7 linked regions of the Homo sapiens genome follow. The protein of the gene in region 1 interacts with the protein of each later gene in a pairwise test. Each region holds a gene or a part of one and is shown on either strand. Other genes may lie near its edges. The genes, in order: ZRANB1, CDKL3, CNNM3, ZBTB24, RASAL3, ERF and UBASH3A.

Evidence for each region.
Region 2: the proteins of ZRANB1 (region 1) and CDKL3 interact in binary tests that used the Homo sapiens proteins (3 or more experiments, as listed by UniProt).
Region 3: the proteins of ZRANB1 (region 1) and CNNM3 interact in binary tests that used the Homo sapiens proteins (3 or more experiments, as listed by UniProt).
Region 4: the proteins of ZRANB1 (region 1) and ZBTB24 interact in binary tests that used the Homo sapiens proteins (3 or more experiments, as listed by UniProt).
Region 5: the proteins of ZRANB1 (region 1) and RASAL3 interact in binary tests that used the Homo sapiens proteins (3 or more experiments, as listed by UniProt).
Region 6: the proteins of ZRANB1 (region 1) and ERF interact in binary tests that used the Homo sapiens proteins (3 or more experiments, as listed by UniProt).
Region 7: the proteins of ZRANB1 (region 1) and UBASH3A interact in binary tests that used the Homo sapiens proteins (3 or more experiments, as listed by UniProt).

The regions. Positions count from the first base shown.
Region 1 is NC_000010.11:124,948,623-124,952,122, reverse strand, and holds part of ZRANB1 (ubiquitin thioesterase ZRANB1), read right to left. Parts: intron 1-3,500. UniProt on the Homo sapiens protein: Ubiquitin thioesterase, which specifically hydrolyzes 'Lys-29'-linked and 'Lys-33'-linked diubiquitin. Also cleaves 'Lys-63'-linked chains, but with 40-fold less efficiency compared to 'Lys-29'-linked ones.
Region 2 is NC_000005.10:134,311,672-134,315,171, forward strand, and holds part of CDKL3 (cyclin-dependent kinase-like 3), read right to left. Parts: intron 2,247-3,500; exon of another isoform or gene 1,740-2,246; intron 710-1,739; coding exon 621-709; intron 1-620.
Region 3 is NC_000002.12:96,819,268-96,822,767, reverse strand, and holds part of CNNM3 (metal transporter CNNM3 isoform 1 precursor), read right to left. Parts: intron 1-3,500. UniProt on the Homo sapiens protein: Probable metal transporter.
Region 4 is NC_000006.12:109,473,220-109,476,719, reverse strand, and holds part of ZBTB24 (zinc finger and BTB domain-containing protein 24), read left to right. Parts: intron 1-461; coding exon 462-545; intron 546-1,237; coding exon 1,238-1,321; intron 1,322-3,500. UniProt on the Homo sapiens protein: May be involved in BMP2-induced transcription.
Region 5 is NC_000019.10:15,454,545-15,458,044, forward strand, and holds part of RASAL3 (RAS protein activator like-3), read right to left. Parts: intron 3,291-3,500; coding exon 2,748-3,290; intron 2,103-2,747; coding exon 1,958-2,102; intron 1,705-1,957; coding exon 1,560-1,704; coding exon of another isoform or gene 1,556-1,559; exon of another isoform or gene 1,365-1,555; coding exon of another isoform or gene 1,305-1,364; exon of another isoform or gene 1,094-1,304; intron 388-1,093; coding exon of another isoform or gene 350-387; coding exon 113-349; intron 19-112; coding exon 1-18. UniProt on the Homo sapiens protein: Functions as a Ras GTPase-activating protein. Plays an important role in the expansion and functions of natural killer T (NKT) cells in the liver by negatively regulating RAS activity and the down-stream ERK signaling pathway.
Region 6 is NC_000019.10:42,249,599-42,252,128, reverse strand, and holds part of ERF (ETS domain-containing transcription factor ERF), read left to right. Parts: intron 1-688; exon of another isoform or gene 689-740; intron 741-964; exon of another isoform or gene 965-1,183; intron 1,184-1,563; coding exon 1,564-1,798; intron 1,799-2,186; coding exon 2,187-2,302; intron 2,303-2,390; coding exon 2,391-2,530. UniProt on the Homo sapiens protein: Potent transcriptional repressor that binds to the H1 element of the Ets2 promoter. May regulate other genes involved in cellular proliferation.
Region 7 is NC_000021.9:42,410,402-42,413,901, forward strand, and holds part of UBASH3A (ubiquitin-associated and SH3 domain-containing protein A), read left to right. Parts: intron 1-2,622; coding exon 2,623-2,821; intron 2,822-3,008; coding exon 3,009-3,122; intron 3,123-3,157; exon of another isoform or gene 3,158-3,500. UniProt on the Homo sapiens protein: Interferes with CBL-mediated down-regulation and degradation of receptor-type tyrosine kinases. Promotes accumulation of activated target receptors, such as T-cell receptors, EGFR and PDGFRB, on the cell surface.

The sequences.
Region 1 (3,500 bases):
CTATTTATATTGGTCATGCAAATCACCCAAAAAGCCCAAAGAGGGGGTAGAGGGAGATGAACCTATAAGGAAGTCAATGGGCAAGTTAAAAATGTAAATTTGGACATTATAACTTATTTCATCAATACTGTTTTTATTTTTTTGTTTTTATTTATTTATTTATTTTGAGACAGAGTTTCACTTTGTTGCCCGGGCTGGAGTGCGGTGGCATGATCTCAGCTCACTGCAACCTCCGCCTCCCAGGTCCAAGAGATTCTTCTGCCTCAGCCTCCCAAGTAGCTGGGATTACAGATGCCCGCCACCACACCCAGCTAATTTTTGTATTTTCAGTAGAGACGAGGTTTCACCATGTTGGCCAGGCTGGTCTTGAACTCCTGACCTCAAGTGATCCGACCGCCCCGCTCTCCCAAAGTGCTGGGATTACAGGCATGAGCCACCGCGACCAGCAGATGGTGTGTTTTTAAAAACACCAAATGTTTTGTGCCTTCAGGTAAGTCATCAATAAAATATCCTTGTGAAAGAAATAATTTTTAAAGCTAAGGAGTAATGAACTAGAGAATAGAAGCCTCTTCTATTTTTTTCTTCACAATCGTTTGTATGCCCTGAGTTTTCTCTCAAGTTAAAAAGTCACCCCAAAGATGTCTTAAATGGGCAAAATCACCAGTGTCCAATGCAAGGATTTCCTTTTCCGTTTTGACATGGTAATTTTCTTGGTAATATAAATCACTTTAAAATCATTCCAGTTCAAAGGAATATAATCTCTCAAAAACTAAATGACTTTTCCTTCACAGAAGTTAATTTAATTTTGTTTGGATTATTGTACAACCTCCCTTTCATTACACCAGGCACATATTTCAACAGTAGAAACTTTTTTTAAAAAAATCATTATAGAAGATTACATTTTGCAACGGTTTTGTTTCTCCAGAGAAAAAAGTAATACTAATTTAATAATTTACTTGAGAAAAACCTCTGACAAATTGTAAATGTCCATCTATATACGTAATTCTTAATATCAATACCAAAACAAATTGAAAAGAATATTTTAAAATGTAATACGCCTACACTTTGCTATTTTTTTTTTTAAACAAGGTGTGTAAGTAAAACCAAATGGACAAATACCTTCTGACATATTTAATACCATGCAAGTTTTAAGACATGGTCTTGCTCTGTCACCCAGGCTGCAATGCAGTGACACAATCATGGCCCGCTGCAGCCTGGGCGCAAGTGTTCCTCCCATCCCAGCCTCCTGCATAGGTGGGGACCACATGGGAACACCACCATGTCCTGCTAATTTTTTTTATTTTTTATAGAGACGAGGTCTCGCCAAGTTGCCCAGGTTGGTTTTAGAGTCCTAGGCTGAAACGATCCTCCCCTCTTCTCAACCTCCCACAGTGCTGGGATTACAGGACTGAGCCACCATATCCAGACCCATCCAGAAACTGTGGAAATATTTAGATATTTCTAGAGTTACACTTGGCACTCTAGAGTGGACAGACACCATATGACACGTTATACGGATTTCTGGCAAGAGGCCCAAATACAATTAGAATCCAAATGGATTTGCCTCAAACATTGATTCTCAACACAATTAAGTTATGAGAAAAGGGAAAATAATAGATTAAATATAACAATATTTTTGCAGACAACTAATATAAGAAAACGTTACCAATACATGTTCTATGTTTTAAAAATCATGTAAGACCAGGCACAGTGGCTCACACCTGTAATCCCAGCACTTTGGGAGACCGAGGCGGGCGGGCTGCTTGAACCCAGGAGTTTGAGACCAGCCTGGGCAACAAGGGGAAACCTCATCTCTACAAAAAATGCAAAATTAGCCAGGCGTGGTGGTGCACGTCTGTAGTCCCATCTACCTGGGTGGCTGAGGTAGGAGAATTGCTTGAGCCCAGGAGGCAGAGATTGAAGTGAGCCAAGATCACACACCACTGCACTCTAGCCTGGGAGACAGTGAGACCACCTTGCCTCAAAAAAGTTAATTAGTTAATTAATTAAAAAATAAAACAATAAAAATCATCTAAGTCTTTACAGACATGTCAAAATTCTGAAAGTGGGACAAATTTTGCTCAGAAACCATCAGAATTATAATCCTCATGATGCCACTTCATCCTGCTACTTGATAAAGAAGAGATTCTGGTTCAGTCCGTAAGTCATTGATTTTCAACAGGGAACACCACTGCATGTGCACTTCACGTCACCCCAAAACTTCAGAGCACCGGGAGGCATTACTGATTCACATATTCCCTATAGTGAAAGCTGTTCATACCACTGCTATTGGGCAACTGAGTATTTCAGCATAAAAATTCCAGTTTCAGGCCAGGTGGTGGCTCACAACTGCAGTCCCAGTACTTGAGTCCAGGAGTCTGAAACCAGCCTGGGCAACACAGAGAGACCCCATCTCTACAAATCATTTTTAAAATTGGCGGGGCATGGTGGTATACACCTGTACGCCCAGCTACTAGGGAAGCTGAGGTGGGAGGACTGCTTAAGCCCAGGAGGTCAAGGCTGCAGTGAGCTGTGATCGCACCACTGCACTCCAGCATGGGCAACAGAGCAAGATCCTGTCTCAAAAAAAAAAAAAAAATGTGTGTGTGTGTGTGTGTGTGTGTGTATACGTGAATATATATACATATATGTGTGTGTAAACATATATATATACATATGTGTGTAAACATATATATATACATATATATGTGTATACATAGTTTCAATGTGAACTTGTTACTTAAGTTTGATTTTTTTCCCCCTATACCTTCAACAGCCCCAACCAAATCTCAGCTCCTAAACTTAAGAAAGATGCAGCTATTGTTTAGGAAGTAAGATAAACGCCAACTAGGAAGCAGCAGGTCCAATGACAACTGAATAAAATATTTCAAGTAAAAATCTCATTTGATAGTTATAGCAAACACATAGAATGATTTTTTTGAAAAAACAAATATTGCCATGAGTGAAAGTAGGGAGGTAGAGAAATTAAACATAAACCTGACTTTAGACTTTTCATGTCCATAGACTGCCTGGTGATAAACTGAAGCCTCTATACCCTTTCCTGTAAGACCCTTTCATACCCACTACTTACCTCAGTCTTCCTGACAACCAGTGAGAAGTAAAACTGGCTCTCCTGGGTTGAGCCCCAACTATTGAAAAACATAGAGAGCTAGGAAGCAGGCAAAGAATCTAGAAATTCATAGGAGGAGTAGGATAAAGGTTTGCCCAGACCCTAGTTCCCAAAAATATTCATTCGTTCATTGATATAAAAATACCTGAGTGCCTAGTATGTATGTAGCAGGCACTGTTGTACATACTAAGATACAGCTTTGAACAAAACATAAAATTACTGGCCCTCAGGAAGCTTAAATTCTAGAGTAGAGAGAGACAAATAATAAACAAGATGATGAAGCATATTAGAAGTGTTATGAAGAAAATTAATGCTGTGGGGAGGGATAATGGACAGGGATGAAATTTTAGATACGGCAGTCATGGAGGAC
Region 2 (3,500 bases), on another chromosome or scaffold:
TATTTAATGTTATCTCTGGTCTATGATGACACTGAAACTGTAGTATGTAAAGAGCAGAGCACACTGCCTAGGACATGGTAACTGTGTAACGAATGTTAGTTGCAATTACTTTTTATTATTAGACTTTCTTTTTCTTTTTTTGAGATAGGGTCTCAACCTGTCACCCAGGCTGGAGTGCAGTGGTGCAATCTCAGCTCACTGCAACCTCCACCTCTGGGGTTTAAGCAATCCTCCCACCTGAGCCTCCCGAGTAGCTGGGACTACAAGCGTGTGCCACCACACCTTGCTAATTTTTGTATTTTTTGTAGAGACAGGGGTCTCTCTATGTTGCCCAGGCCGGTCGTGAACTCCAGGGCTCAAGCAATCTGCCTGCCTCAGCTTCGCAAAGTGCTGGGATTACAGGTGTGAGCCACTATGCCCATCCTATTATTAGGCTTTTCATTCGTGACACTTGTTAAGTCTGCTGTCTTCCTAGTCAATACCTGATACAATAACTCAATAAATTTTTGTTAAACTGAATATTTGTTATATAAAAGTAACCTATACAGCAATTTTCCTGCTAGTAAAATTTCCCAATACAAAATGCTTTTAAAAAACCCACATTCACTCAAAATGCTTACTTTTCAATAAATCCATCTCTAGTAAAATACTCATGATGCAAAAGATCACTAGATGATATCCTGTCAGCAGGATCAATTTGTAAACAAGCCTAGGAAAGGAAAAAGATTTTAATAAGTGAGCTCTCAACAGGGCTCCATATGGTAAAAATTAAATTTATTTGACAAATTAAGAAGTAAGTAATTATCCAGATCAAAAAGCCTTCTTGAAAAGATGGAATTAGACCTCAGGAACTTCTGGTAGTAAGTTCTGGCTGTTTATTTCCCTAAGGAATTTGCACTTGCAAAACATTATTATAGGTTAAATGTCCCATGATTCTAGCCAAAACAGAGGTCAGTCTGTTTCTGCTGAAATTAGCAAAAATTAATTAGCTCATTTTGATCCTCTTTTCTGCCCTGACAGGTGGAAAGTTCATGGATAATCATTTGCATTTTACAGATCTAGAAGCATGATTAGTAGTTTGCCAAACACGAGTTTTAACCCATGTTGTCTGACGCCTAATCCAGCACTCTTTCTATATCATAATACCATTTTGCAAATATTCAAGTCCCTAAATCTTTCAATAACCCATTATTAAATCAGCTCTTTTCTGTTTCCCTTTCTTGGTATAGAAACAAACAAACAAAATATGGAAGGTAGTTTTGAATGTTAAGTTGTACATAATAAATCTATATGTAGTTAAATAACAATAATTATAAATGGAACACATTTCTTTAATCAAAATACTGAAAACAGGTTTTCAATAAAAAGCATCTGCTTTATAATTTTCATTCCTCCTGTGAAAGGAGGTAAAACATTAATAGTTAACTTTTTTGTAGAGATGGGAGTCTTGTTATGTTGTAAGGCTGATGAACTCTTGAGTTCAAGCGATTCTCCCGCCTCAGTCTCCCAAAGTGCTGGAATTACAGAAGACAGCCACTGTGCTTGGCCTTTTAAAATTTTTTAGAGACAGGTTCTTACTCTGTCGCCCAGGCTGGAGTGCAGTGGTGCAATTATAGCTCACTGGAGCCTTGAACTCCTTGGCTCAAGATATCCTCCTTCCTTAGCCTCTTGAGTAGCTCAGACTACAGACACATGCCACCAAGCCTGACTAGTAACTTTTATTGATGCTTACTACATACCAGACAACGCTCCAGCTTTTTCTTCCTTCCATCGCAACAACAATCCTACAAAGTAAGTATTATTATTATCCTCATTATACAGATGAGGAGACTGAGGCCCAGAGAGATCAAGTAATTTGTTTAAGATCTCATAAGTAGAGGAGCCACAATTAAAATCCAGCAAATCCAAGATAATTGTATATAATATTATGTTTCTGTTTATTTCAAAATGCATATTTAAACTGATTCACAGAAAAAAATCTAGAGATCTGCTGTACTATAATGTGCATATAGTTAAAAATGCCATACTGTACACTTAATAATTTTGTAAGAAGGTAGATTCCATGTTATGTGGGGTTTTTTTTTTACCAAAATAAAAAACATTGATTCACAAGGAGAAATTATTTAAGTCTGTTACCTACTTAATGATGTGGCAATACCTAGGTCTTTAAGACTGCAACTAGTTGGCCAGGTGTGGTGGCTCATGCGTGTAATCCCAGCACTTTGGGGGGCAACAGAGGGTGGATCACCTGAGGTTGGGAGTTAGAGACCAGCCTGACCAACATGGAGAAACTCCGTCCCCACTAAAAAAAAAATAATACAAAATTAGCCGGGTGTGGTGGCACATGCCTGTAATCCCAGCCACTCGGAGGCTAAGGCGGAAGAATTGCTTGAACCCGGGAGACAGGAGGTTGCGGTGAGCCAAGATCACGCCATTGCACTCCAGCCTGGGCAAGAAGAGCAAAGCTCCGTCTCAAAAACAAAACAAAACGAAACAAACAAATTAAAAAAACCCTGCAACTAGTTAAAAATATGTGCTCATTTTAGAATATAATGGTAATCTATCACTAAAACTTATAAGAAAAATGCTAAAAGGTCTGACCAAATCATAGGGGCAGACAATTAGAGGCAGTCCTTCTGTGAATATAATTCAGTAAATTTAAATATATGCCCTACTTTGGAAAATGTAAAACATGACACTTTGGGAAACAGATTGGCAGTTTCTTTAAAAATTAAACATATGCCTACCCATGACCCAGCCATTCTGTTCTTAGATATTTCTGCAGGAGGAATGAAAATACAATGTGTGTTCCATACAAAGACAAACATGAATGTTCTCATGGCAACTTTATTTGTAATAGCGAAAAGTGGGAAATAACCCACATGTCCATCAACAGGGAAAGGATTTTTTAAAATGTGGTATAGTCATATAATGAACTACTACTCTGCAAAAAAGGAACAAATTGCTGATACATACAAAAACATGAATGAATCTCTAAACCATTATGCTGAGTGGAAGAAGCCAGACATGAAAGAGTGCCTACTGTATGCTTCTATTTATATAAGATTCTAGAAAATTCAAACTAATCTATGGGAATAGAAAGCAAATCAGTGGTTATCTGGGGACAGAAATGGAAGAAAAGATGAATTGTAAAAGGACACAATGAAATTTTGGAGAGTGATGGAAATGTTAGGTATCGTGTGTGTGTTTGTGTGTGTGTGTGTTAGGTATCCTGATTGTGGTGGTGGTTTCATGTGTGTATACATGCATCAAAACTCTTCAAATTGTACATTTTAAGTATGTATAGTTTACTGCCCACAAATTATACCTCAATAACATTGTTTAGAAAATTTATATCTAGGAAAAATATGTGCCCTACATCAGATATCAAAGTGTATTTTAAAGTTACAATAATAAATCAAAGTTGTACTACTTCTAGAATAAAGAGAAAAATCAATGGAACAGAAACAAACCCACACATGTATAAGCATTTTGTCTAT
Region 3 (3,500 bases), on another chromosome or scaffold:
CCTCAGTGAATGAATGAATACTGTGAGAAAGACAAAAGTAGTGTGCTGACGCTCCTCACTGCTGTTGGAGCTGGTCAGACTCTTTTCCGCATCATGGCAATCATCTGGCTCCCAGCAGACAGGAAACCAGAGCTGGGTTCCTTTAAAGCAGAGACTGCGGCCAGGCACAGTGGGAAACACCTGTAATCCCATCTCTTTGGGAAGCTGAGCTGGGAGGATCGCTTGAGGCCAGGAGTTTGAGACCAGCCTGGGCAACATAGGGAGACCCCAATCTCTACATAAAATTAAAAATTAGCTGGGGATGGTGGTGTTCACCTGTGGCCCCAGCTTACTCAGGAGGCTGAAGTGGAAGGATCACTTGAGCCCAGGAGGTAGAGGCTACAGTGAGCCACGATCACATCACTGCACTCCAACCCAGGTGACAGAGCAAGACTCTGTCTCAAAAATAATAATAATAATGTTCTTGGCCAGGCGCAGTGGCTCACACCTGTAATCCCAGCACTTTGGGAGGCCGAGACGGGCGGATCATAAGGTCAAGAGATCGAAACTATCCTGGCCAACATTGTGAAACTCCATCTCTCCTAAAAACATAAAAAAGTTAGCTGGGCGTGGTGGTGCACGCCTGTAGTCCCAGCTACTCAGGAGGCTGAGGCAGAAGAATCACTTGAACCCGGGAGGCAGAGGTTGCAGTGAGCCAAGATTGTGCCACTGCACTCCAGCCTGGCAAGAGAGCAACACTCCATCTCAAAAAAAAAAAAAAAATAATAATAATAATAATAATGTTCTTTTGTACATTAAGGTCCCTTACTTAACAATGGTTCAAATTACAATTTTTCAAATTTGATGGTTCAAAAGCAATATGCATTCAGTAGAAACCATACTTCAAACACATATAACCATTCTGTTTTCACTTTCAGTACAGCAGTCAATAAATTACATGAGATATTCAACACTTTATTTTAAAATAGTTTTGTGTTAGATGACTTTGCCCAACTGCAGGCTAAAGTAAGTGTTCTGAGCATGTTTAAGGTGGGCCAGGCTGAACTATTTGGTTTGGTAGGTTAGATGTATCAAACACATTTTTGACTTAAGGTATTTTCAACTTACAATGGGTTTATCAGGACATAACTCCATTTGTAAGTCAAGGAGCAGCTGTCCAAGTTATTTATTATGGCTCCAAAGCACTCACTCTTCCTGGTGACGTCTGCACAAAATAATCAGCACGTCATCTCAAGTTGGCACTGATTGAGGGGCGCCTTGCTGGGGAGGTTACCTTGCCCCCAGACTACAAAGTTCCCTAGCAGACACAGCAAAAGAAACAAGACCCGGAATGAAAGCTGCCAAGATGGCAGGGACTCCAGCTCCACGAAATTCAGAGGCTCATTAGCTTGGCAGAGAGATGGAAAGGGAATCGATTTTTAAAACCTCACACGCCACAAAGACTGCAATATGCCCTTTGTTCCTAAGTGGAGGAATGCTTAAGAAGGTTAGGAAGGACAAAAAGGACTTTAACACGGAAAAAATAAAGATATTTGCCAAAGGACTGCACTGAACTAGAGAAGCAGAGAAAAAAGCTCCGGGATGTCACCAGAAAGACATGGCCAGTCTGCCCACGAATGGCCCTCACTCACCACAGGAGCGGGGAAGTCAAGGGGGATTAAAGAGCTCCCCATTTAACCTCCAGGTTCCAAAAACCTCCCCCACTGTCTTCCAAGGGGATCCTTTTCAGCATGTTGTCAGGCAGCTTTTAGAAAGGTCTGTTTCAAGCAGAGGCACTCAACCCCAAATCCTCCTGCATCGGGCTGCTTGTGACCTGCCTGGAGGCCACCCAGCCCAGAACAGGAGCAGCCCGGACCCTGGCCTCTCTAATTTCCTTCCTAGCTACATTTCAACCTGCATTTCAATCTGAACCTACTGGACTTGCCCATCTTAAAACCAAACAGCAGAAGGCCTCCTCCCCTGTCCCACATCCTCTGCCAGTCACTTCTCTCTGCAGCCACACTCTGTGGAGGGCTGTCTACATTGGTTCTCGTACCTTTCCACACCTCATTCATTCCCCAAATGGCTCCCTTGCCGTGGCACCAAATCTGCTCTTGCAAAGGTCAACGGCATCCTGTTTGCTGGCCTCCTCTCCTGTCACTCACCTTCCCTGGGAAAGTGGTCTCTTCCCTTAGCTTCCAGGACATTCCGCATCTCGGGAACTCCTCCTTCCTTGGTCTTGCCTCCTCCTGGCCAGCTTCTCCTGGGCTTCCCTTGCCCCTGACACACCTGTGCTCCTAGGAGGCTGAGGCTCTCTGCCTCCCTCCCATGACTTGAGAGACACTCCTATTCTGCCTCCCACTTGCATTTCACATCAACGGCCTGCTAGGAGTTTGCCTCTTGGGACACTGCACAGACACAAATTCAATGGCCAAAACCTGCTCCCCACGCCCGGCCCTTAGTGAAGGCGCACCGCCACCACACAGCCAGAAATCTGGGCCTCATCCTCAGCTGCTCCTCCTTGTTGCATAGCCCTGCTGCCAGATACCAATCTTCCCAATTCCACCTCTGCTGCCCTCTTGGGGCTCCTCTCCAGGCCTGCCATGAACCTTGTTCAGGTTATCATCCCCTCTCACCTGGATCCCTCACACCGCTGGTCTCCCTGCGCTGGTGTCCACAATTGTTACTGATCTGTAAAAATAACTGATGCTGCTGCTTGATGCTCATGGCCCTGGTGATCAAGTACAAGTTCCTTACACAGCACACAAGCCCCCCCGCCAGGGGACATCCTGCCTCTGCGCTCCTTCCCAACGAACATGAACATTTTTTATTCTTCCCCAAGTGGAATCCCCAACCACCCTGGACCAAGCTCATCCATCGCATCTGAAAGACAAGACCATGGCAGCGAAGATCCTGACACTGGCGGTTTGGAAAATGAAAGACCACTTTCACCAGCCTCATCCTGAGCATCATGACCAACTACAGAAGTTGCCTTTAGTTCTGAACAGGACAACCCTTCCATCTCCGCTGCTCCAAATCTCTGCTTGGTGACTGCTCAACTGTTGAAAGCAGCAGCCAGCTGAAGCCAGACACCAGAGTGAGCTTTTTCTTAAAGAATCTAGAAACGTGAGTGCTTTGAACACCAAAAGGACAGCTACAGTCTTCCACTTTTTCCCTAAAAAAAAGGAAGTCTGGTGACCTGCCTAGAAGAACAGAAATCTGCAATTCCAGATTCACCCCTTGCTCCTGGATTGGCAAACAGCTCACCTACCAGCAGAGCCTGTCCCGGAGTAAGAACCACCTGCTAACGCCAAGCACACAGCATATGCACGCCAGGCACTGGCCAAAGTGCTTGATGAGTCTCCCCCCGCAGGTCTGTTTACCCACTCTTATCACTAACAGCAGAGGACTTTGCACCACAAGAGGCTGAGCAGCCTTCAGGGCCTGGGGGCAGGCAAGGGCAGGATGGAACCTACTCCGCTGATTCCAGGGTTGCAATGTTGGCCACCACACCAGGAGAA
Region 4 (3,500 bases), on another chromosome or scaffold:
TCCCCAGGGTGGGCATTACCAACACCTAAATGGTGTTTTCTCAGCCTAGTATCATTTCCAACGTGGTGTCATTGAAAGACAGGATTTTGCATCTGTCTGAGTGCAGTTTAGAGTTCTGCACGGATCATTAAACTAGAGCTTATAAACTGGCTGCTGGGAGTTTAGTGTGCAAGCATGTTTTATTAAACCACCAAAGTTTAGAATTGTTTTACTTTGAACGCCTTTCGGGGAAACTTAAATTCTCCAGTTCTACCCCAGTCTCCAGTACTCCCGATTGCCTTACATACCTTTGCACATTTATGTTTCTGTGGTAGATTGAAGGCTTCTGGGTATGTAAACAAGTCGCTTGTATCATTTGTAGAAAATGGGGACCTGGACCCACTGTAGTATTTACCTTATTAGTGAGCATTCCAGTTCTTTATAATTTTTTACATGTTTTAGTGTTTTGGTTTTTTTGGCAGGACAGAAGTCTTTTACCTGTGATCAATGCGGAAAATATTTCAGCCAGAACAGACAGCTAAAGAGCCATTACCGAGTTCATACAGGTACGATAAAGTGAGAACATTTAGATTGGGGGGGAAGAAATGCAAATAAGAATTGTTTCTGAAACATTAGGTTTATATTGTTCTGCTCTTAGCACATATCGTTCACATAGGGTATTTAGGGAAAAGTGCCTTAAGAGTCTAAATTACATGTTTTTATGTTATTGTCCGCCACCATGTGAATTATGTTTTATTTGTATACTACAGTTTTGGTGCCACACACAGAAACCCTACAGAATTGGCATCTTTCAAAAGTGCCACTTGCACAGGGGAGCTTCAGTGAATGGTTGTTAGTGGTGCCTGGGCAGAGACATCATCATCCCATGGCTGTCAGCCCAGGCTTTCTCTCCCCTGGTTCTACCTGTTGTCCTTTTTCTTTCCTGCCAACTGATAAGAAATGAATGTGGGTTACGAGTGTCATTTGAGGTCATTTGTGGCCTCAGTCACACCAATACTTTGAGGAAAAAAGGAGAGACTACATTTAGAATTGGAAGGATCCTAGCTCTCTTGGAGGAGGCAGTGAGTTGAGGTGCTTAGGAAAATATTAACAGTTACCAAATTAATGAAAAAATTTTTGTGGTTAAAGTACTATATTTAAAGTGATTATTTTTCAGGGAAGTGCTTTAACACAAATCACTGAAGAAAAGGCAGGGAGAGCATGTATGCACTGACACTTTTTTTATTGTTGCGACAAGGCCACTCATTACCGGAATGCAAAGACTGCCATCGCAAATTCATGGATGTGTCTCAGCTAAAGAAACATCTGCGAACACACACAGGTAAAACTCCATCTCGTCTGTCCCCCCAGTACACGGGATGTTTTCAGGAGAGTGAAGAATGAAGTTCTCTGAGTGCCCTGCTAAGCCTGTGTTTGGAAATGTTTATTATAAATTGGATGGGAGTTGTGTAAGAAGATAAGTTAAAAGTTGGAAGGCAGAATGTTGTCAGCACTGTCTTTGGGGAAATCACATCTCTTGTAGATGAGCAAAATGGAGATCACTTACTGAGGACTATTCGTATGTCACAATTCATTTAATACCACAGAATAGTGAGTCTGAGTCTGGTTCTATGTTTCACTCTTAATTTACTTCAGCATTGAAGGTGATATCAAGACTTTTTTTTTTTTTTTTTTTTAAAGATAAGGGCTTGTGCTGTCATCCAGGCTAGAGTGTAGTGGCACGATCACAGCTCACCACAGCCTTGACCTCCTGGGCTGAGGTGATCGTCCCACCTCAGCCTCCTGGGTAGCTGGGACCACAGGTGCAAACCACCACACTACCTAATTTTTTATTTTTTAATTTTTGTAGAGATGGGTCCCACTATGTTGCCCAGGCTGGTCTTGAACTCCTGGGCTCAAGCAGTCTTCCTGTCTGAGCCTCCCAAAATGCTGAGATGACAGGCATGAGCCACCATACCCAGCAAGATAAATTTTTTTTTTTTTTTTTGAGACGGAGTCTCGCTCTGTTGCCAGGCTGCAGTGCAGTGGCACGATCTTGGCTCACTGCAACCTCTGCCTCCCGGGTTCAAGTGATTCTCCTGCCTCAGCCTCCCTAGTAGCTGGGACTATAGGTGTGCGCTACCATGCCCAGCTAATTTTTTTTGTATTTTTAGTAGAGATGGGGTTTTACCATGTTGGCCAGGATGGTCTCGATCTCTTGACCTTGTGATCTGCCCACCTTGGCCTCCCAAAGTGCTGGGATTACAGGCGTGAGCCACTGTGCCTGGCCCAAGATTATTTTTTTAGAAAAGACAGCCAAATGTAACAGACACAAATGTAGCATAGACACTGAGAATGTTTCCACTTTCTCCCCTAGAACCAACACTTAAACTTAAGCAGCACCACCTCCAGAAAAATCAGTTTCAGAGATGACGAGGAGGCAGCATTGATTAGGGCAGGTCAGTTTTTTTATGTAAGATCGGAAAATTGGATCTTTTATACCTTTTGTCAAAGAATGTATGTTAAAAATAAGCCTATTCAGTTTTCTAAGAAAAACTTGCCATTACAGGTTATTTAATAATTCTGTTGTCTACTGGAATTATCTAAATAGCAAATTGATTTATGGTGCTTTGGACTTTTTTTTTTTTTTTTTTTGGAGTCACTGTCTCTGTCGCCCAGGCTGTTGTGCAGTGGTGCTATCTTGGCTCACTGTAACCTCTGCCTGCTGGGTTCAAGCAATTCTCCTGCTTCATCCTCCCGAGTAGCTGGAACTACAGGTGCGCACCACCACGCCTGGCTAATTTTTGTGTTTTTTTTTTGTAGAGACAGGGTTTTGGCATGTTAGCCAGGCTGGTCTCGCTCAAACTCCTGGCTCAAGTGATCCACCCTCCCAGCCTCCCAAAGCGCTGGGATTACAGGCGTGAGCCACTGTGCCTGGCCTGGATGTTGTTTTTTAAATACAAGTTTTTCTTCTTAAATTCAGTAAACATCTCATAGGATATGGATTTTAACACATGTACTGAGCACTTACTGGGAACCAGACATTGTTTTAGGCTTTGAGGATACAGCAGTGAATGAGATGGACAGGCCCCTGCCTTAAGGGGCCAACATTCAATAGGGAAGACAGAGTACAGACAAGTATATAACACATTTGGTGTTGTGAGTGCGTTGAAGAATAAAATGCAAGGTAAGGGGGCGGGATGCCGGAAAGAGAGTTGCTCTTTTATGCATGGACTGGTTTGGGAAGGTCTCACAGATGAGGTGGCATCTTGGATGGAGATGAGAATGCAGTGGGGGAGTGAGCCAGCCGGCCATTGAAGATGTCCAGGAGAGAGCATTCTAGGCAGGGGGAGCCCTGGGCACAGGGCCCTCAGGCAGGAATAAATGTTTTTGACAAGCTGGAGACGTGCTGGGAGGAGCATCAAGGCAGCCAGAGAGCTGGGAGTAGGAAGTCATAGTGTAGGTGGATGTTCTCAATTTAGCTGCATGCTTTTTACCACCTGGGAAGCTTTAAAAAAAAG
Region 5 (3,500 bases), on another chromosome or scaffold:
GCCTCCTTCTCACCGAACCTGGATCAGGGCCAGGCTGGGTGGGTCAGGTCAGGCACCTGCCACCCCCACACTCCCAGCATGGTCCCCCCACCCCTAGCTTCCCAGCACCTACGGGGCACGGTTGGCGAGGTTCTGGATGACCTTGGCAATCAGTGTGAGGGTGCGGGCTGGGCCGGGTGCTGGATGGTCTGGTGCCAAACCAAAGAGGCTGGGTGCCAGGATGGCAGGGCACAGGAGCCGCAGGAAGAGGGAGGCGCACACCAGTCGGGGGCCCAGCACCTCAGAGCCACGTTCTTTACATGCTTCTCGCCAGCTTGAGAACACGATGCCCAGCTCCGCAGGGAACCAGCTGGTGCAGAAGAGGCAATGAATGGTCAGACGGGGAGGCTATGGGCATAAAGGTTAAAGTCATAAGGTTGGGAGTCCCAGAAGCACTGCATGATTGGTCCATGATCCTCCAGAGAGCTATTCATGAAGCCCATGCAGGCTTCCTTCTCACTGAACCTGGGGTCTGGGCTCTAGGATTGGGAATATCTGAGATAACAATGCTTGGGGTTATGAATCAGCATGGGGCCATGGCTTATGGTGTAGCTATGGCAATCGCTGGGGATAATACTCTTATAGTTGGGGATACAGGGTCACATGAAGACAGAGGTTATGAGCTTGGATGTACTTATAATTAGACATGAGACTGGTGGGCCAGAGTACAAGATATAAAGTAGGATTGGGGCTCTGGAGGTCACCTAGGGTCAGAAGTCACTTGATTGAAGTCAGGGATTAGGTATGCAGGTTAACCTAGGGTCAGAGGTCAAGGGATTGGAATCCCAGGTCTCCTGTGATCAGTTGCATGGGATTTGAGGTGGAGGGTCACTTAAAGCCAGGGATCATGGACTTGGGGCATCATCTGGTCATAGGATTGAGGTCCTATGTTAACTGGAGCCAGTGGCATGAAATTGGGGATATGGAATCAACTGTGGTTACAGGACAAGGAATTGGGTCTCAGGTTACTTGGGGTCAGTGGTGATAGGGTTGCATGGTGATAGGGTTGCCAGATGCAGCAAACGAAACTTCAGGACATCCAGTTAAACATGAATTTCAGATAACGGAGTGATTTTTATTTATATTTTTACTTTTATTTGGGACAGGGTCTCTGTCAACCAGGCTGGGGTGCTGTGGCATGATCATAGCTCACTGCAGCCTTGAATCCTGCGCTCAAGCGATCCTCCAGCCTCGGCTGGGAATACAGGTGTGTGCCACCATGCCTAGCTCATTTTTAAAAAGCTTTTTGGAGAGATGGAGTCTTGCTATGTTGCCCAGACTGGCCTTGAACTCCTGGGCTCAAGCAATCCTCTTGTCTCGGCCTCCTAAAGCATTGGGATTACGGGCGTGAGTCACCATGCCTGGTTCAAATGAGTAATTTTTTAGTATAAGCATGGTCCCAATTATTGCATCAAATTTAACTGAGTGTCTCCTGTATTTTATCTGGCCACCCTAAACTGGAGGTCGGGGCTAGCATGGTAAGCAGGGGTGGGCTAAGCTGCTGGGGCCCTGATTCTCACTCGTAGGAATGGATAATGGTTTCGAAGACCTCCTCGCAGCTGTTCCGAAGTCTGGCCTGGTGCTCTGGCAGCTCCGAGGCTGGACATTTGCTGGGGTCCACTTCACAGTCCTCAGTAGAAGCACAGAGACGCCGCACAACCTGTCCTGCAGCCCAGCACAGCCAGATAGGGGCTGGGGCCATGACCACCAAAACCTGCCACACCCATCCTCCAACCTTGTCTTCAGGTTATTCCGGAGGCACCCAACATCTTGGGGAGCTCCCAATTGTCCCCAGGATCCTAGCACCCCCAAAACACCACTCACTACCAGAATCCAGGTTGCTCAAGGACTCTTAGAACTTCACCCAGGTCCCCTAGCTCACCAGCAGGCCGCTGACATGGACTCTCCCCCAGCTCACCCAGGGTCTCCTGGAGGTAATCCTGTGCCACGAGCTTCATGTACTCATCGATAGCCTTGGTGGCCAATGTGTTTTCCCGGAACAGCAGCGCCTCACGGCCTCCACAGCGCGCCAGCTCCGCAGTGCCCAGGTCAGTCACCAGCGCCTAGGAAGGGCAGGAGGTCAGGTTGCACCAGATGCAGACAGAGTCCAAGGGAATTCGGATCCTTGGCTGGTCCCTCACACCAGAGGCACAGGCCCCGCCCCTTGTAGCTGATGCTTAGGCCCAGTCCTTACTGCTGGGGCTCATAACCGAGGCCGGAACCTCTAACCCTCACAGCAGAAATTTAAGCCTTTCAGCGCTGAGGTGCAACCTGGGCCCCGCCCCTCACGCGTGATGCTCAGGCCCCTGTCGCAGCTGAAGCTTAGGCTCCGCTCTTCAAGGTGTCCCGCCCCTTATGGGTGATAATTAGGCCCCGCCCCTCACAGCTGAAGCTCAGGCCCAGTCCTTCAAGGTGCCCCGCCCCTTACAGGTGCAGCTCAGCCCCAGCCCCTCACAGCTGACGCTCAGGTCCCGCCCTTCAAGGTGCCCCGCCCCTTACGGGTGATGTTCAGGCCCCGCCCTTCTAGGTGCCCCGCCCTTCTAGGTGCCCCGCCGCTTACAGGTGACACTTGGACCACGCCCCTCACACCCCTTCAAGGTGTCTCCCCCATTACAGGTGCAACTCAGGTCCTGCGCCCCAACTCCTGCCCGAAGCGCGTTATCGGTCTACCCCTGGTAGCCCCGGTCCGCGCTGTCGCGGTGCCGCACCTGCGCCCGGCCGGTGGCCCGCAGCACGCGCACCATGGCTGCCGCCAGCTCCTCCTTGGCCTGCGCAGGCAGCGCGGGCTCCAGGGCCCCGCAGAGGCGCGCATAGTGGAAGGTGAGGAACTCCGCCAGCTCCTTGTAGCGCTCGGACGGCAGCACGCGCAGGCGACGCGCCCGAATCCGCGCCCGCAGCGCTGCGCCCGCCGGCGCCCCGAGCAGCGGGAACCAGCGCTCCAGACCGGCGGCAGGCGCGCGTGGGGCGTCCAGCTCCTCCAGCGCCAGGGCCACGCGGCCCAGCACCGCGCTTCCCGGGCCCAAGCCGCGCAGCCGCAGCGACAGGCGACGTGCCGGTGGCAGCGCCTCGAAGTGGAAGCGCTCGGCCCAGAAGAGCTGGCCTGGGCCGGCCCGAGGCGCCGTGCGTGCCAGCAGCGCGCCATCCAGCCACAGCTCGGCGCGCACGCCGGGTGCCCCCGCCGCTGCTCGGGGAAGCCCCTTCGCTTCGTGCACCCACACGCTCAGCCATGTCTCTTCCCGCTCCACGTTGTCCTGCAGATGGGAGTGGGATGGGGGGAAGCGTTTTGGTTTGTTGGCACCCCAAAGAAGGCACCGCAAGTGAAGCGTGGAGCCTCAAACCTGTTGCGTCGGGTCCCTAGGGAGATTGCTGGGCCTTTGGGGAAAGAAGTGGAGCCACGGGAGTCCGGAGGCGGTTACGCGGAAGTCTTCTAGCTTTTCTGGGCTCTCCGGGAGAGTTGGGGG
Region 6 (2,530 bases), on another chromosome or scaffold:
ACCTTGTGATCTGGATTCTCTAGAAGGGTGAGGATAATGGGTTGAACACCTAGATTCCCAAGAGAGCGATGGTGCTCTGGGGTCTCTGGAAGGGGTTGTCAAAGGCTGTCACTTTTAAATGGAACAGGGGCTGTTGGTGCTGGTCTGTGAACAGCTGGAGGTCATATCCCTGGCACCCTGAGGGGCTGGTGGAAGGCTGGGATATATCTGAATGGGGCAGGGACTCCGGGGGCTATGTGGTACTGCAGCCCAGTCTGGGCAGGAGTTGGGGGCCTACAGTGAGCTCTGGATTTGGAGGGGGTGGTCCCTGTGGGAGCAGGAACTACTGATTCCCTGGATTCCCAAGGGGAAGGATCCCTTGTTGGATTCCAGACTTGGGTGGAGTCTTTGAGGGTGGATGTGTTGCCTGGAGGCCTTGTTGGTACCTGTTTGAGCTGGGGCCAAGGGAGGCGGATTGACCCCTGCAGCCTGACTGGATTTGGGAGCCGCCCATCTTTAGCTGGCCACCTTGGCCTTCTCTCTCTAGTGGCACCAGGGACCCTGCTCTGCCTCCCCACTCCTTCCCTTCCTCCCCTTTCCCTCCTCCCACCCCTCCATTACCGGCTGCCTGGTGCTGAATTATTGATGGCCCCTGTTGTTGGGAAATGACAACAACCGCAGTCCCCCCACCCCCCACCCCCCACCCCAGGCTGCCCACCCCCTCCAGAGACCAGCCAGCCCACCGCCAACCTCTACCCAAGGTTAATGCTGGGGGTGGGCAGGCAGGTGGGCAGGGAAGGAGCTGAAGATGAGAAGGCAGAAGTGGGAAGAGGGTGACAGCTCCAGGGTGCCTGCTCAAGCTCCAGGCCTGGGCTGGGCCCTCCAGCCAGGTGGGGCCTGGATGCCTGGGTCTGGGGAGGGCAGTGTAGCTCAGAGGGTCCAGGGCTTGGGGGGCCTCTCAGACAGTCTGGGTTTCACTCTCCAGGGAAGACAGAAGCCTCTGTGTGTGCAAGCGCTGACCTCATCGGCAACCGAGTCACCCCACCCCTCCTGGTCCTTTTAAGAAAAAAAAAAAAAATCTTCCTCTCAGGTCTTGGGGTTGGGAGTAGGGGCTCTGTTGGGTCTTCGGAGGAGACAGTGCATGTTTCTAAGGAGGACATCCGAGGAGCTGGGGTGGTGCAACTGGCTCTGAATGGGAGTGGGGGTAAGCTGGGGGGCTGTACCCCAACCCGGCTGGCCACGTGTGCCCCTTCCTGCCCCTCCCCCACTGGCAGCCCTGCCCGCCAGCCTGGCTTGGTGCCTGGCCCCCTGGCACTGGCCCCGGGACCCACCGCCGACGGTTTCCTGTTTCTCCCGGTGTCGCTGGAGCGGGCTCCAGCTTCCCCTCCCCCCCAGCTCCTGTCTAGCCCCTCACATGCAGACAGACAGACACGCACTGTCTTCTCTTAAATCAGATCTTGACTTGGCTGAGGTGAGACAGATTTCCCCATGTTGAAGGCAGGGCAGAGGTGGACCCTGGGATGGGACCCAGAGCCCTGGACTTGGCAGCCTGACCCCAGGCCACTCCCTGCCTCCCGTCCCCAGGGTTTGCCTTCCCGGATTGGGCCTACAAGCCAGAGTCGTCCCCTGGCTCAAGGCAGATCCAGCTGTGGCACTTTATCCTGGAGCTGCTGCGGAAGGAGGAGTACCAGGGCGTCATTGCCTGGCAGGGGGACTACGGGGAATTCGTCATCAAAGACCCTGATGAGGTGGCCCGGCTGTGGGGCGTTCGCAAGTGCAAGCCCCAGATGAATTACGACAAGCTGAGCCGGGCCCTGCGGTGAGGACGGGCTGGGGACCCCTGAGCACATGTGGAGTGCCCCCCCGGGGTTGCACAGCCCCTTGCCTGTGGGAACAAGCATTGGGTCTGACCCCTGGCTTTGCCAAATCCTAGCTGTGTGACCTTGGGCCACTCCCAGCCCTTCCCTGAGCCCCTTGGTAACACAGACGTATCCTGAGGAGAGATTACAGTCACCAGTGGATCCTCTAGTCCTGCCTTAGATGTGAGGAGAGAGCTGGTACCCACCCTCTGGGCACTTGATTTGTCTTTTGTGGCCTACGTTCCTCAGTTGGCCTTTGGGAACCACACCTAAGTGCGTGTTAAGGTGTGGAGTCTAGACCTGGGTCCCACGTACCTGACCTTCCCAATGGCATTTCTGTACCCACAGCTATTACTATAACAAGCGCATTCTGCACAAGACCAAGGGGAAACGGTTCACCTACAAGTTCAATTTCAACAAACTGGTGCTGGTCAATTACCCATTCATTGATGTGGGGTTGGCTGGTGAGTACCAGGGATGGTTGGTGTGGAGAGGGTCTACATGCCCCTTCAGGCTAGGCCAGGGGCCTTGACACTGTCTCCCTTCTGCCAGGGGGTGCAGTGCCCCAGAGTGCCCCGCCAGTGCCGTCGGGTGGTAGCCACTTCCGCTTCCCTCCCTCAACGCCCTCCGAGGTGCTGTCCCCCACCGAGGACCCCCGCTCACCACCAGCCTGCTCTTCATCTTCATCTTCC
Region 7 (3,500 bases), on another chromosome or scaffold:
CAAGGAACCCTCCATTCCAACACCAGGCCCCTCGGTGCTGGATGGAAAGGAGGAATGCAAACCTCTGAAGGGAAAAGATTTCTGGAAGATGTCCCAGGAGAAGCAGTACCTTCCAAAGCCTCCAACCACCACCCCGGATTGCCCGAGACTTGCAGGGATCCCCAGAGCACAAGACTAAACCTGGAAAAGCCCCAGAAAAATCGAGAGAGTTTTCCCCCTACATCGACATCAATGGTACTTGTGACAAGCTGACTCCCTTCTGGTTCACCCTCTGGAGCCAACGGGGAAAGGCAAGGCAGCCCAAGCCATGTGACACAGCTCAGAAATCAGAGCAGGCCTTGGCCCCCCACTCCTTCCCCAGCCCACTGAGGTGCAAGCACACACACACACACACAGATAGACACAGAGACACACACATAGCTCACACACATAGACACACACAGATTGACACAGAGACTTACACATGCACACAGATACACACACATACATGCATACAGACATACATAGATATAGACACACAGACACACACAGATAGACACAGAGACGTACACACGGCACACACAGATACACACACATACATGCATACAGACATACATAGATATAGACACACAGACACACACAGACATGGAGACGTACACACGGCACACACAGATACACACACATACATGCATACAGACACACACAGAGACACAGATACACACAGACACACACAGATAGACACAGAGACGTACACAGCACACACAGATACACACACATACCTGCATACAGACATACATAGATATAGACACACAGACACACACATATATACATGCATACATGGATACAGACATACACAGACACACACAGATAGACACACATACACACTACATGTACATAGGTACACATGCAAACAGATACACACAGATATACACACACAGGAATACACAGATACATGCACATAGACACACACAGACACACACAGAGACACACATTAGATAGACACACATGCACAAACACAGACATGCACATACATGCACATACATAGACAAATGCACACATACAGACACACACATAAGCACCACATGCACACATATGCACACAGATACACACATGCATACACACAGACACACATATAGACATACGCAGACACACAGACACACATAGACATACGCATATGCAGACACACACACAGACACACACACATATAGACATATGCAGACACAAACACACTCACACACCTCCCTCTGTCGTTAGCTCCTCCCAGTCCCCCACCCCAGTTCTGGCCTGGCCGTGGTTAGTGGAGCTCCCCTCACAGGCAGAAGAGTGTAACGGAGACTCACTGTGTACCTTGATGCTGTAAAATGAAAACACTAATCTTCCGAAGTGTGATATTGATCACAGCTACACTTATAACATGACTATTCTTGAAAATTACATATCTGAGGCCAAGAAACACAATGTGAGACGGATTCAGGAATGGACATGTGTTCACTGGGTGGTTTTGTGTTGAGTGCCGTTGAGGGTTGCAGAGAAAACAGACAGGGAGGAATGTCAGGCCGGCCTGTCCATGGGGAGACGGAAGCTGCATTAAACACTGTGATCTGGCCTCATACTTGGGCTTGTAAGAAGCACTGTGGGAAATTCCGAGGGCAGCCCGGTGCTGGGAAGAGAAGGGATCAGGCCAACTCCCGCCAGGAGGGTGTGGTGTCTGGGTTTCCCCTGTGGTCCGATGTGGCCAATGGCACTGGGAAGGTTTTCAAGCCCAGGAAGCAGCCTCCCCAGGGCGGTAGGCAACACCGAGCCCAGATGTCAGGAGAGGCTGCGTCTGGCTGGAGGATGGGGGTGGGAGCCCCGTGGGCAAGGCTGTCGGGCCAGCACCTGTCGGGCTCCGTGGGCCTGAGGGATTCTCCAGGTGACAGAGAGCCTGCGGCCTCAGGGGTGGGAGCTGCATCAGAAAGAGGGTCCTGCAGCCACTCAGGGGGCATCAGGGAGGCCGGGCCAGGGGCTGTGCAGGCTCAGGTCCTCCAGGGAGCAGACCCCAAGGCAGAATTCCCAGTGCAGGAGACGCACAGGGGAGAGACTGCTGGTGAAGGCAAAAGAGGAGGAGAGGGTTGGAGGCAGGCAGAGCCTCAGTGCCTTAGAGGAGTCCCTGTGGAACCCGACTCAGTGCTCAGCCGTGGAAGAGAGGGTGGCCCCGCAGCTGGAAGTGCAGCTGAGTCCCGCTCACTACAGGCTCTGAGCAGTGCCTGGGCAGCCTTGGAGTCTGCTAGAAACCTCCAGAAGCCAAATCATGCAAACCTGAGCAAAGCAGTGTGCCATGGGACTGAGGAAAGGGCCTGGCAGGTGATGAGCACGTGCCATGGAGGGAGGGGATGCAGTTCAACGACCAGGGGATTTCCAACCTGGGCACCTAAAGGAGACTCCAACCTGCAAAGAAACTTACCTGAAATATTTGAAAAAACCGAGGTCCAGGTATAGAACAAATCCATAACCCCAGACACAAAGGGACGCAATAAATTATGTTACAGCGCTTTGAACAGAAAAGAATCTCACTTTAATTGCTGCCTGATTGTTATTAATTAAATTAATAGATGACTTCTGATGAGAGGTGTGGAAACACAGGCTCTGTCTCTGTCCCCTTAGTGTGAAGACCAGAAGGTGGAATGCCTGTACGAGGCGCTGAAGAGAGCTGGAGACAGGCTCCTGGGCTCCTTCCCCACGGCCGTGCCTCTGGCTCTCCACTCCTCCATCAGCTACCTCGGCTTCTTCGTCAGTGGCAGCCCCGCAGACGTCATCCGGGAATTCGCCATGACCTTCGCCACGGAAGCATCTCTCTTAGCAGGTGGGCAGCCCTGGCCAGTTGCAAACACAGGGCTGGATTCACAGTGAGTGAGCCCTCTGTGGCAGGGACTAGCCCCCGGCACATGGATGCAGTGGGTGGGTTCCAGGGGAGCAGAGCCCAGCAGCAATGGTGGGATGGCTGGGTGGGCTTTCTTCCGGGCTCAGTGGCTGCACCTGTCCTCACCCAGGCACTTCCGTTTCCCGCTTCTGGATTTTCAGCCAGGTGCCTGGACATGGCCCTAACCTGAGGCTGAGCAATTTAACTAGAGCCTCCTTCGTGAGCCACTACATCCTTCAAAAATGTAAGCCATTAGAAAGCTTCCGGACCAGCTTTGGTCTTCTCTTTAGGCGGGAATAGCCTTGTTCTCATTATGTGGTTTTTAAAATGCTTAGCTATATGCCAACAGCCTGGGAAAGTGCCCCAGAAGGGTGTGCCAAGCATCAAGCCTGAGTGGGTGACTGTGACGGGGTTGGAGGCTGGTGCACACAGGGAGTCAGGGCCTCCCCACCCCAGCCTTGAGTGGGAGACACACAAGTCCTACGTGACTTATTTCTGTATTTTCAGTATGAGCTTAGTGCTCTCTCCTTGGCCTCTCCAGGGAAAGATTATTTAGACTCATATTCAGAATCATCAAAATTCCCTTCTCTCCAAACACCAGCCCTGGCCTGGAGACCAAGGC